3 separate regions of the Homo sapiens genome follow, and regions 1 and 2 are each linked to region 3. The links come from fine-mapping of genetic effects on gene expression. A gene starts in region 3. Each other region holds a variant in brackets. All regions are shown on one strand. Distances are from middle to middle.

Region 1 (4,239 bases), 800 kb after region 3:
TAGCCCTTTTAGGTTTCATGATCTTATCTGTATTTATTTAACATAAATAACCTGCAGATATTCTAAAAATATCAGAGGTGGCTTACATTAAGATACATATGCAGTATGGTTAAAAGAGAAAATAAAAAACTTTGGTAAAGGAAGGGATATAAATGTATCAGTCACCTTGAAATATCCTTATGATAGCTGTATATCAAATTGACCACTTTTAGGTACCTTCACAGCCAAAACAAAAAGGAAAACAGTTTTGTTCAAATACTTCTCATTGTCTTATTTTCAAAAAATGAAGCCAATTCTAGGACCAGTAAACTATTCCTAGCATTGAATTCTAAAAGGAAAGTATTGTGTTTGTATATTTTTGAGGGACATTATGCATCACCACCAATAATAGCTCTTTAAAATGTGTTTCCAATACATAAATATAAAAGTCATAGGTATAACATATTTACAGGAGCAAAACTAAAAATGCCCAGCTCTATGTGACTTTAATGATTGATTTTACCAGAAATAGATATGTCTTATGTTTTTTCACCGTTTTGGAATTGATTTATCACTACTTCCTGTTATGCTAAAATTTTTCTCTAAACTGTTCAGATAAAACAGTTGTTTTTACATTACTTCAAGTAGTTTTGAGAAAAATTTTGACAAATTGTATAGATGTGTTTTATGATTTGAAACTAATCAAGAAAACAGGATAGAGAAGTTCTAGCATTCTAGACAATGGACAGAACAGACAAGTACAGTAACCAAGTGCAGAAAGATTTCCGTTCCAGCAGATTGTGCTGGCTCACGCCTGTAATCCTAGAACTTTGAGAGGCTGAGGTGGGGGATTTTCTCAAGCCCAGGAGTTCAAGACCACCCTGGGCAACATGGCAAGACCCTGTCTCTGGAAAAAAATAAAAAAAAAGAGCTGGGTGTGTTGCTATATACCTGTGGTCTCCAGCTACTTGGGAGACTGAGGTGGGAGGATCAGTTGAGCACAGGAGTTTGGGGCTACAGTGAGCCTTGTTTGCACCACTGCACTCCAGCCTGGGTGACAGAGCAAAACCCTGTCTCCAAAAAAAATAAAAATAAAAATAAAATAAAAAACGCTTTTTCCACCAGGTGCTAGGAAATGTATGTTTCTCCTCTTAGCATTAACTTATTCAGGTAAAACATATAAAAATCATAAACTAATCAACTAGCATAAAGGAGTATATGGTCAATAGCAAAAGCCTACCTCTCTGCTGTACCACTATTAAGGTTCTTATGAATCTTAGGAATTTGTGATGCAAATGTGAACATAGGTTTATACATATTATAGGGTTTTTTTGAGCAAATATGGTCTTACTATTATACGGTTTTCTTTTTCCCCTTAACAATATATCTTTGACATATTTCCATAATAGTATAAATAGATTCCCTAGCTTTTTTTTTTTTTTTTTTTTTTTTGAGACAGAGTTTCGCACTTGTTGCCCAGGCTGGAGTACAATGGCACGATCTTGGCTCACTGCAACCTCTGCCTCCTGGGTTCAAGCAATTCTCCTCAGCCTCCAAAGTGGCTGGTATTATAGGCACCCACCACCATGCCCAGCTAATTTTTGTATTTTTAGTGCAGATGGGGTTTCACCATGTTGGCTAGGCTGGTCTTGAACTCCTGACCTCAGGAGATCCACCCACCTCGGCCTCCCAAAGTGCTGGAATTTCATTTTAAGTCAGTTAAGGTTTTCTTTGTTCTTGTACTTTAAAAATAGTAGTGTGTATAAGTCTTTAATCCATCTGGCATTTAGTTTTGTGTGAGGATCCACATCA[T/C]ATCCCTTCCCTCCTCCTTTTTTTTTTTTTTTTTACTTCAATGGCAAACAGTTTCCCCACAGCCAATTGTTAAATCACACTTTTCTTTAGTCTTGGAATGTACTTAAAATTACCAGCCAATAAACAATTTTTAAGTGCTTTTTAAATGTACACAACTATGCTAACCACTTAAGACATAAAGATTGATGATGCTTTTGTGCTTAGGAAGACCATAGCTGACAAACGGAGACACAAACAATTTGTAACAATATAGGTGGTTTACATTACAGAGCAACACAACACAATATTGTGGAGTGTTTCTTAGAGGATAACTGGGAATTTGCCAATAAGAGATAGTGGGAGCCTTTCACAAGAAGCAGCATACCCATCAGCATGGGGTATTCAACCCAAGAGAACCAAGGGACAGGATATAGTATCCCAAAAGTCCAAGTATTTGTAGAGTTTCTGTCCTAAGCTGGAAAGGTAGATTTGAATCTACAAATGAACACCTTTGCCTACTTGCTAAAAGCTACAAATATTCTTTTTTTTTTTTTGGAAACTTTAATACCTCATTTTATTTTATTATTTATTTATTTATTTTTATTTTGCTTTAAGTTCTGGGATAAATGTGCAGAACGTGCAGGTTTGTTACATAGGTATACATGTGCCATGGTGGTTTGCCGCCGATATCCTTATGGCCCCAGAAGGCAAGACACATCTGAAAATAAGCCATGGCTACCTGTTGAGGAATCTCACTCTGGCCAGTGGGCACATGATGAGCTGTACTGAGGAGAGGCCTGAGACAGGGCAGTGGTCCAGGAGTCAGCCAAGAGGGGAAGATGCCTGGGTTTGTGAAGACCCAGGGAGGAGCGAGCCCTGGGTGGAGGGTGAGGAGGATCATGAGTTTAGGTGTGAGTGTGCTGAGTTTGAGAATAACACTATGTGCATAATAGAAACACTAAAATGCTAGGTCTTCTTGTGCGTTGATCAGGAAGAGAAAACATCACCCTGGAACATGCAACCTATCTTATCTGCTACCTTCCATGCCCTTCTCTGCAGTCATTGCACCACGGACATCATTGCTGCCATATGTTCCTTCCTCCTGTTGTAATTATTTAAACTCACTACATGCCTAGGGCCTCTCTAAACAGCAAACACCTTGGGACTAGAGAATGAAACACTGTTTATGCATACAGTGTCTGGCCCACCAAAGCCTGACATAGACTAGGGAATTCATAGACATTTATGGAATGAAATGGTAATTAATTTCAGAAACTGGATATCCAGGAGATTAATGGACTGTGTAAGAGTTAGTCAAACCCGCTCAACCATCATAAGAAAGTCTTGATACAGAAAATTGGACTGGAGAGCCTGTGCTTTGCACTCATAACATGGGTATGTGAAAGAATAATTCTGAATTTTTTTTGTCATTCCAGGCTCAATATTCCAGTAGTTGGAAATTAGTAATGCTGAGCTTACCCAACCCACAAGGCCCATATCTTCTGATAACTGGAGTCAGAGGCGTTGCTTCTGCCATCTGTCACCAATATTTTTACATTTCCTGGTGTGTATTTTCCAAGTATAACCAGATCTTGTTGGACACATCCCTGGATTTACATAATCGGGGCAGTGTGGAGAAGGACTGCTCAGGGGTCTAATGCATCCCAGCTTGGCTACCACCAGGCATGTTCCCACACTCTCAATCTCAGTGTGTAAAAATAAGAATAACAATGGTAACTAAACATAGGGCCATGCTAAGGATTCAAGAAGAAAATATATCTTATCAAATGAGATCTTTACTTAGAAAAATAAAGCACATCTTTATGCTTGTGCAGGTAAAATGTAGAAAATACGGAGAAACCAATGAAGAAAACAAACCACCACAAAACCTACAATCCTGAGTTAGCCCAAATACCATATATTTCAATATATAACCTGATATGTTTTGGATCTGTGTCCCTGCCAAATCTCATGTTGACCTGTAATCCCCAGTGTTGGAGATGGGGCCTGGTGGGAGGTGTTTGCATCACGCGGTGGATTCCTCATGAATGGCTTAGTGCTATCCTCTTGGTGATGAGCGAGTTCCTGTGAGATCTGGTTGTTTAAGTGTGTGGGACCTTCCACCCTCACCTCTCTCTCTTGCTTCTATTCTTGCCATGTGAGACTCCAGCTCCCCTTTTGCCTTCTGCCATGATTGTAAGCTCCCTGAGGCTTCAACAGAAACCAAGCAGAAGCTGGCACCATGCTTCCTGTACAAGCCTGCAGAACTGTGAAGCAGTTAACCCTCTGTTATTTATAAATTACCCAGCTTTAGATGTTTCTTTATAGCAATACAAGAACAGATTCATAACCTCTCAAGCTTGATTTTTTCTTAACTAAAATCATGTTTTTATTCAAAATCATAACACAACATCCCTTTGTGTCACTAAATGCAGTTCTGCAATAATGTGTGAATCTTGCTGGATAGTA
Region 2 (4,239 bases), 51 kb after region 3:
CAGGTCAGGGCTGGGAGATCAGCAGTATAGAGAGACTGGTGTGGCTGCCCAGGCAGGGGGTGGTTGTGCCTGCCTGGGGCATTGGGAAGGCTGCCGAGACCCAGTGACACTTGGGCCTGGCCTTGAAGGTAACTAGGAGTTTGCAAGCTAGAGAGTGAGGGAGAGGAGAGGTTGGGAAGGATGCGCAGAGGCTGTGTTTTGGACTTGGGGAGAATTGGTTGGGTTGAGGGAATGTCCAGAGAGAGATTTGGCAAGGACACTCGGAGACTGGTGTGTGGGTGGCCTCCTGGGCTGCCTTAGACCCTCATCTTCATGCCCTGCTGCTATGAATTTTTTATTATTGTATTTTGTTTCATTTTGACAGGATATTTTGATAGACTTCTAAAAATGGACAGGACTGTTTTTCTAGCCTTTTGTGATAAAAGTGCCCTTTGTGCTAAAAATTCTAGCCCATGGTGTGTTGCATCTGTAGGTCTCTAGCTTGGCCAGGCCTGCTTCTGTTTGGGGTTTCTAGAGCTGATATTCCTCTGCTGAAGGCTTTATAAGCTCAGATGGCATTTCCTGCCCTGAATCCAAGTCTGCCGCTTAAGAATATGCCATTAAAGGCTCACTGGGTTTGGGTTGGAGTGTGGAATTCTCATTCCACTCAGAATGAGCACGGTTGGGCACAGATTGCAAGACCTCTTTTAGATTTGAAGGTCTCAGCTCTTGCACATGGAAATGACTGAGCTCCTGGTGCTGACCTGAGAGCTGACATTGAGACAGAGGAACTGTGGGCACCATCCACATTCACCTGGATCCTGAGTGTGGCTTCTCTTTTCCTCTGCCCTTCTCAGTTTGAAGTTTTTGAAGCTCTCATTTCTTCCTCCAGTTCTGTTTACTTTGCTTTTTATTTCATTTCCTTTATCCAGTCTGTTTCTCCTATTTCTGTGAGAAACTATCCTAGTTCAATCTCTCATTTGAATTCAGTGAAAGCTGTCTGCCTACAGACTCCACGTCTCTTAAACCTCTGCTCCTTGGAAACTCAGATTTCTTCTTCCCTTCAGAGCTCAGTTTCATCAGCACTTCTGGGAGATTGCAATGTTGTCTGCACAGAAAAATGACCCCTTTATTTCAAGGCACTCCTCTCTACCTTCCAGAAGCACGGTTTTGGGTGTGAGCTGCCAGTTACAGTCCTTAGCATGGTTTGCTAAGGTCTGGGCCTGGGCACATGACCCATCCCAAGCCAAAGGCAATCCTTCCCTGGGACTGCATCTGGAGCTGGCGTGGGGCATATATGTTTCTCTGTGGTCCTAAAGCCGCAAGGTCATCGATTTGGAGATGCTTCCAGCCTTGGGGTGGATGAAAGAACTCCTCCCTCAGAGAGTGAATCCATCACCAACCAGGAGAAACACATAAACAAGAGACGTGGGCCTTCACCTTTATATCTAGGCCCATTCCTTTATTGCTCAGTCCTTCAATTCACCCACTCTTTTTACCTTCTCTCCCCCAAACTTTTGCTACAGCATTGCTCCTTTGTGGTACGCTCTTTGGAAGATTTCTGTTGAAACTAGAATGAAATCTCGACTCTCATGTGGTCAACAGGCCTGGCTCCTGCCTGCCTCCCTCCCTGCTCCCTGGGTGTCCTAGACCCATCTTGCAGCATGTTCCTCCCTCAGGGTCCCTTCCCAGCCCTCTTCAGAGAGGCCTTCCCTGGTATGTCCCTGAGGGAAGTCACCCTCCTCACTCTGAATCATCAGGTCCCAGAGATTTCTTTTTAAAGTACTTACATCATTTTATATCTGTACCTGCCTTTGAAATTTACTTGCTTTGTTCCCTCTTTGTCTGTTCCACAAAGAGTTCAGCACCACGGGGAGCCCAT[C/T]TGTCCAGGACACTGTATCCCTAGCGTTTGGCATGGGTGGGCTCCAGAAACTGCTTGTTGAGTGCACGAATGAGAGTGAGAATACTGGAGAACATCCCCCTGTGGCCAGGGGCTTGTCCCCTAAGCCAGCCAGCTCTGGCTTTCCCAAGGTTACGCTATGTGCACCAATAGCGTCTGGGTGCCATCCTTTCCTGTCTCACTGTGGTGAAATGTGGGTTAAGAAGAATGAATTTCACTGGGTGTGGTGGTTTATGCCTGTAATCTCAGCACTTTGGGAAGCTGAGACAGGTGGATCACTTGAGGTCAGGAGTTCGAGACCAGCCTGGCCAACATGGTGAAACCCCATTTCTACCAAAAATACAAAAATTAGCCAGGTGTGGTGGTGTGCACCTGTAATCTCAGCTACTTGGGAGGCTGAGGCAGGAGAATAACTAGAACCCGGGAGGCAGAGGTTGCAGTAAGCTGAGATCGCACGACTGCACTCCAGCCTGGGTGATAGAGGGAGACTCCGTCTCAAAAAAAAGAAATAAATAAATAAAGAAAAAAGAACAATGAATTTGAGGGGTGTAGTCTTTGGGCTGGGCCCTGAAGGGCACATGGGATTTGGGCCCAAGAGATATTCCCAGCTGGGTGGGGTCTCAGACCTCATAGCCATGTGAAACACCTGAGTCTTAGGAAAGGCCTTTCAGTACACCCCATTCACATTGGCTGCCACTCCCTTCCCCTACCCTCTGATTTATGATCTTTGGCCTCACTTGTTATCTTCCTGATATGAGAAAGCATCTTTTGTTCATTTCCTGCATGGTTGGACCCAAGGTCCGTGAGACCAAAGACAAGGTCCAGCCCAGGATGTGGAACGGCCACAGAGGATGATGGTGACAGCTTGGGGCTGAGGGAAACCGTGGGAACAGAGCACCCACGGTGTGGGCTGGGCTCAGTCCCCAGGCAGGGCGACTGTGCGGCTGGGATGTAGGAATGTCAGGTGCTAGTTGGCTGGGGAGGCACAAGCCCCTGTGGGCAGGGGGAATGCAGGCAGCCCTATGGCTGGTTTATGGGGCCCTGGAGAGCTGTGGAACAAGTGAGGGCGTGGTCAGGCTGCATTTGGGGAAGACAAGTGGAGGGGGAAGACAGAAGCTGGGACAGGGCAGGTGGCTGTTGGTGTCGGTGCAGAACTGGGCAGACACCCCAGGTCACTTGTGACCAAGAGTCTTTTCGGAGGTGAGACCCAGGATGTGGGTGTGAGTGAAGAGGGCTGAGCCAGAGGAAGTAACTCTCCTGTTTTCTGAAGGAGCTGCCTGATTTCCTTTCCACTCGGTGTCTTCCTGCACCTTTCCCATTTCCACCTGCGCTTTTCTCATTCGGAAAAGAGCATAGACGTGGATGCCACCCACAGCAGACGGTCCCGAGGGGCCTTGAGAAACACCAACTGCAGCTTCTGCTGTCCTGGGGCTCCCCCACCCCCAGAAGCTCCCCCACCTCACAGAGTCCTGAGCTAAGCACAGAATATTCTGGAACATTTTCCCTGTACACCCTGGGGGAGTGGACACAGAGCTGGAATTATCACGGTTCATCTCAAAAACGGACACATAGTTTGTATTCTGTTCTGTAATACGTTTTTATTTAAAATAAATGCAATGCTTTACATTTTTACTCTAGAGAAAATTTCATGCTGCAGCATCTCATTTAAACTACACTGCAGCACCTTCGAGTGGGTTCTAGTGTTATTATTACTATGACTAAAACTTCCATTTGACATTGACGTAGATTTTGGGAGACTCAGAAAAGTGAGGGCCTATCAGCACTCACGCCAGAACCGAACCCTTAGGTTGTTGGCCAGGTGGGGATCCTGAGGAGCCAGTTGCTGAGGATCAGGACCTGGGAGGCACCCACTGCACAGTTATTTTATTCATGTGATTCCATCTTCTCAGCAATGCCGTCCACAGGCACCGTGGCTGTCCTTACACCCTCAAGGAGGAACTGGAGACTTAAAGTTGCCGGGATCCTCTAGGGAGGCCTGCCTTGGAGATGGATGGGATGCTGCCGCTTCCACCGGCTGCTTCTCCAGCATCCACTACTGTCTCCTGGGCGTGGGTCTGGCCTTGGAGAACCAACTTGATCCCTTGCCCCCTGTGTCCCCTCTGTGGTCATTTGTTAATTGTGCTTTCCTTTCCCAAAGTCAACAGAACAATGCACAAAGCCCCTTTCATTCTGGAGAGCCTATTTATTTGTTTAGATAGAGCTTCAGAGAGTTGGCAGCCCTCACGCAGCTGCCCGCTGCCCATCCCAGGCAGGAAATGGAAACCCCCACACAATCGGCCTGTTGTGTAAAGCACAGTGATGACCATCAGGAGGTGGCTCAGCCTCCCGGGATGGGGGTG
Region 3 (4,229 bases):
GGTAATCATGATGATTGCTAAAGCCCAAGAATGACGATGTGTATCAGTATTTCTAAGATCACTTTTTGAATACCCCAAAATGCACAATAATGTACGACACTTGGCAAATGACATAACTTTGCCCCGAGAGACAAATGCCTCCAGCAGCTTTAACAGCTGACCAGAGCCAGTGTATGTTTCAGGCATCTTGCCTTTCCATGAATCCAGCATTTCTCAGGGGTGAACAGAGCCAGCCTTGCCGAGCCAGAAAATAACTTCACCCGGGCGTGGAACTCTACAGCTACATAAATTATAAAGGGACTGTTCATCCTGCTAGCCCTAGATGGGGGCCTGCCCAGTGACATCTGTCCAACGTGATCGTTGGGGAGTTGGGGGAATTAGGATGGGGAGAATTCTCCCAGCCTTCAGCTGTGCAAGGCAGGAACTTTATTTCTCATATAACTAGGTGAGGCTGGCTAAGAATGCTTGAAAGAACAGCTGCCAAATCCATTTAAACAACCCCCGCTCCTTTTTTTAAGGGAACAATGTGATGCCCTTACCAGAGTCGCTGTCTGCCTGATACTGATAGTGGCTAAGCCAAGAGGGTAACTCTGCCAAATGTTTGCATTTTTCCTCTTCTGGGGCTCCCCTTAACAACATCTCATTCCCCCCCCCATTTCAGATTAAGAAGGGAGACAGCCCTAGGACTGATTCCAATTCCCTTCCGTGTCATTGAAATTGACTTAGTCCACATTGCCCGCACCCACCACGCACCTGGAAGTTTGTTTGAGGTCGGCGCAGGTGCAGGGGTGGCCCGAGTTGTAAGAATGGTATGGTACTGAAAGTGGCACGCGGAGTTCAAACCTACACTCTGTTGTGGCCGCTGGGTAACCTTAAGAAGTTACTTCTTTTTCAGCTTCAGGTTTTCCAACCGCAGAAGATATCAAAACCCGAATCCACTTTACTTGTTTTTGGACATACCGGGACTAGACATTGCTTTGCAAACCAAAAGGCTGTGCAAAGTCAGTATTTTAAAAGAGAGGTACTATTTCCTACAACGTGCCTGCCCACCTTCCTTGGTCCAAATCCGCCTATATCCCCCCCATCCCCAAGCATCCCTGGGATTGCAGTCCGTGTGCACCCCCGTGCGGGGCGAGGAGAATCTCCTGTGTCCAGGATCTTTCCAACAGCTAAACATCGGTACCGCTCCCCTCAGCTCCGGAAACCTTTAACCCATTTTCACTGAAAGCGCTTTGCAATTTACAAGTACTCTGCACTTAGAGAATCGAGCAAGTAGAGGGCCGGCTGGGGAGGGTCCCTCCGGCGACCGCCTTCACCTTTCCCGGAGCGCCTTCAGTTTCCCCACATATTATCTCCAGTGAGAAGAAAAGCGGAGTCTCCCGCAGCGGCACCCAGCAACCCCCAGGCCCTTCGGCGCCAGTGCGCCGGGTGCTGCACGCAGCGCACCTGGCGCGGGCGGCTCACCTGGAGCTGGCGGCGCTGGCAGCAGGTAGGCGCGCAGGCGGCTGACGGCACTAGCGTTGACGCAGAGCCCGCGGCCGTCCAGCAGCGCCTGCAGCGGTCGCGCCTCGTCGGGCGACGGCTGGCAGCGAAGGCCGGAGCCACAGCGCTCGGTGTAGATGCCGCACGGCTGGCCCTCGCTCAGTGCGCACGTCAGGCAGCAGCCGCAGCCCGGCTCGCGCACCAGCTCCGCGCACACGGCGGGCGGAGGCGCGCACTGGGCCAGTGCACGCGCGTCGCACGGCTCGCAGCGCACCACGGGACCCAAGCCCGCCGAGCTCGCGCCAGCCCGCGCCACCGGCGGCCCGCGGAGCAGCACCAGCAGAGTCAGCGCAGCGGCCCAGAGCGTGGGTCGCGCCCGCTGCATGACGCCTGCAACCGGGGCACGCTGCTTGGCAGGCTGGGCGCGCAGGGATGGGGCGACAGTACACGGCGCGAAGCTGTGGAATCCAGGCAGGAAGCGGCTGATCCTCAGCGCCCAGCCGCAGTGCTCGCATCTGGGCGGCCCGGGCGCGCCGGCCGCTATATAGAAGCCGGGGTGGCCCAGGACACGCCCCGGAACGGCGCGCCCAGGAGTGGGGGTTGGGAGGGGGGCGGGTCGGCGCAGGCACGGCTGCGGGGGCCCGTGCTTCGCCCTGAGCAGCCGGGGCCGAGCTCGGGGGCGTGCAGCTCGAGACTCGCCCGGGCACCTGCTCCTCGTGCGCACGCCCGGAGCCCGGGTCACCTTGTCGTCTACAAGAACCAAGGTGTGCCCGGCCACCCCGGCACTCCAGGCCACCTCAGCACCCCCGGTCACCCCAGTCACTCCTGGCCAACTCAGCACCCCCGATCTCCTTGACCCCGCCGCCCTTACCCCTTCCGCTCTCGGGGTGAGGTCTCCCTGCGGCGAGCCGGTGTCGGGGAAACTGGCATACAGCGCTCCGCATTCGTGTGTACCTCGTGGAGCTTTCTAAAATTTAATTCCGTTGGCAGGCGAAGTCTTGGGACATTTCTGACTTACATTTGGGTCTCAGGGAGCCAAGGCACTGCGGGGTTTAATTTACACCCGCTGGGCTGTTTATATCCCCAGGGGCCCACAAATACGCATCTGAAGATGCGCCCGGGGCCTTCGCCCCTTTCCAGGCTTACTTCTCAACGCAAGAAGACTCTCACGTGTTGCTACACCGCAAGTCTCCAATTAAGAGTGGACCGGCAAGCGAATGCGTCCTTAAGGCAGGGCTTTTCAAATATTTTAAATGACAACTGTTCTTCTTGTCTTGGGTATTCTCCCTGATTATGTTTTCAAATGGAGTTTACACCCATGACAAAAGAATAATAAAGACAATAAACTGGGCACTGCTGAAACGTAATTAACCAAATAGTCCTTTAATAGGCAATTTTCATTGTCATTTTTTGAAGGCGACTTCGTATTACTGTATTCTCGATGCGTTGGGATTCTAGCTTATCTCTGCAATCTAAACACTTTTCAGTAAAGTTCGGGGGCGCAATTGCGCGCTGAGGTCGCTGTAACTCCTGTCGGCCTTCTCTGGCACTCGAGTTTCTTCAGTTTTGTCTGCGCACCCCCTCCCTTCGGTGACCAACAGAGGACGCTGGTGGTCCAGGATTGGATTGAGGATTAAATTTTTCAAGGCACTTTTCCAAAGAGTTTGTGGGGGTGGAGTGGGAAGCGGTGAGACCTCCGCGGGAGGAGACTTTCCTGAACGCTGTTGAAATTGGACGCTTGCCTTAGGAGGTGGATAGGTGACTTGAAGGAGCCCTTTGCAGTTTGGAGTAGTAATAGCAAATCAGGAGCTCCTCCATTCCCCTCCAGCACGAAGCCTTGGGTGAAGTTAATCTTCATTCATCATTTCTGTCTCTCCTAATCGATCTCTCGCCCAGTGTCTCTCCTTGTCCCTCTCCCTCCCTTTCTCTCTCTCGTCCTCTCCCCTTTTCCCCCTGTCCACCTCTTCCCCCATATCTATACAGCTTCCTTTTATACATATATACTCTCCTTTTAGAATGGAAAGATCAATTTCGTTCCCTCTTGTACTAAATAAATAAATAATTGGACCTCTACAAATAAAAAGAGACCAAAGACAAGAACAATGGAGTGCCCCGGGGTGACGAAGGCCCAGCACCGTCATTTTCTTATGAGCTCTTCTCCCACAGTGCTCAGGCTGTGGCTACACTCAACCTTGTTTACAGGAAACCGTGCCATAATCGTCGCTTGCTGTTTCCTTTCTCTTGTATCACCTCCTTCTAGTATCTGCGTTGACACCCAAGAACAGGATCTCTGATTTCATTGGAAAATTGAAGGAAACAAAACGAATCCCCCAGGTTTACATCCGTTCCTTAAATACTCGCAGAGACCTTGACTCTGAAATTAGAGCTGGGTTCGGCATCAAATGCAATTCTTGAGGTCCCAGGTCTGCAGTTCTGGTTAGTGCAATGTTGCAGCAGAGCCTGGACTGACCACTGGTTAGTGTAGCACTTTTTATTCAGCTTTATCATCTGGAGAGTGGACAGGGGAAGATCAGAAACAATGTCTTTTTGGAAAGGATTAAAAAATTTGTTTTATTCTTGGTTCTCTTCTTTTTTCCCTCGCATTGCAGTTGGAGAAACTTGTTCAGTGCCGAATGGCTAGGGGGCGCCAAAGCTCCAGGCGTCCAGCCCGGCCTCAGGGACCACGGGACACACGTAAAGACTAAGTCACATTTCAACTTTCAAAGGCTATTCCAATAACAATGTTT

The links. PIP is the estimated chance that this variant, and not a neighbour inherited with it, causes the effect.
Region 1: its variant is the best candidate, but not a certain one, in a credible set for the expression of IGFBP3 in whole blood (INTERVAL, PIP 0.70).
Region 2: its variant is the best candidate, but not a certain one, in a credible set for the expression of IGFBP3 in whole blood (INTERVAL, PIP 0.82).

Annotation. Positions count from the first base shown.
Region 1 is chr7:46,717,811-46,722,049 of GRCh38, forward strand. No RefSeq gene overlaps it. Among named protein-coding and RNA genes, the nearest start is that of SNORD151, 740 kb to the right of the region's middle. The variant T/C (reference allele first, on the strand shown) is at 1,792.
Region 2 is chr7:45,970,091-45,974,329 of GRCh38, forward strand. The region is part of intron 1 of LOC102723446 (a long non-coding RNA gene); the gene reads left to right. Among named protein-coding and RNA genes, the nearest start is that of IGFBP3, 51 kb to the left of the region's middle. The variant C/T (reference allele first, on the strand shown) is at 1,862.
Region 3 is chr7:45,919,274-45,923,502 of GRCh38, forward strand. IGFBP3 (insulin like growth factor binding protein 3) reads right to left here and starts at 1,999. Exons shown (of 5, transcript NM_000598.5): 1 at 1,465-1,999. The coding sequence starts at 1,867. RefSeq lists enhancers at 1,802-2,382, 2,383-2,963.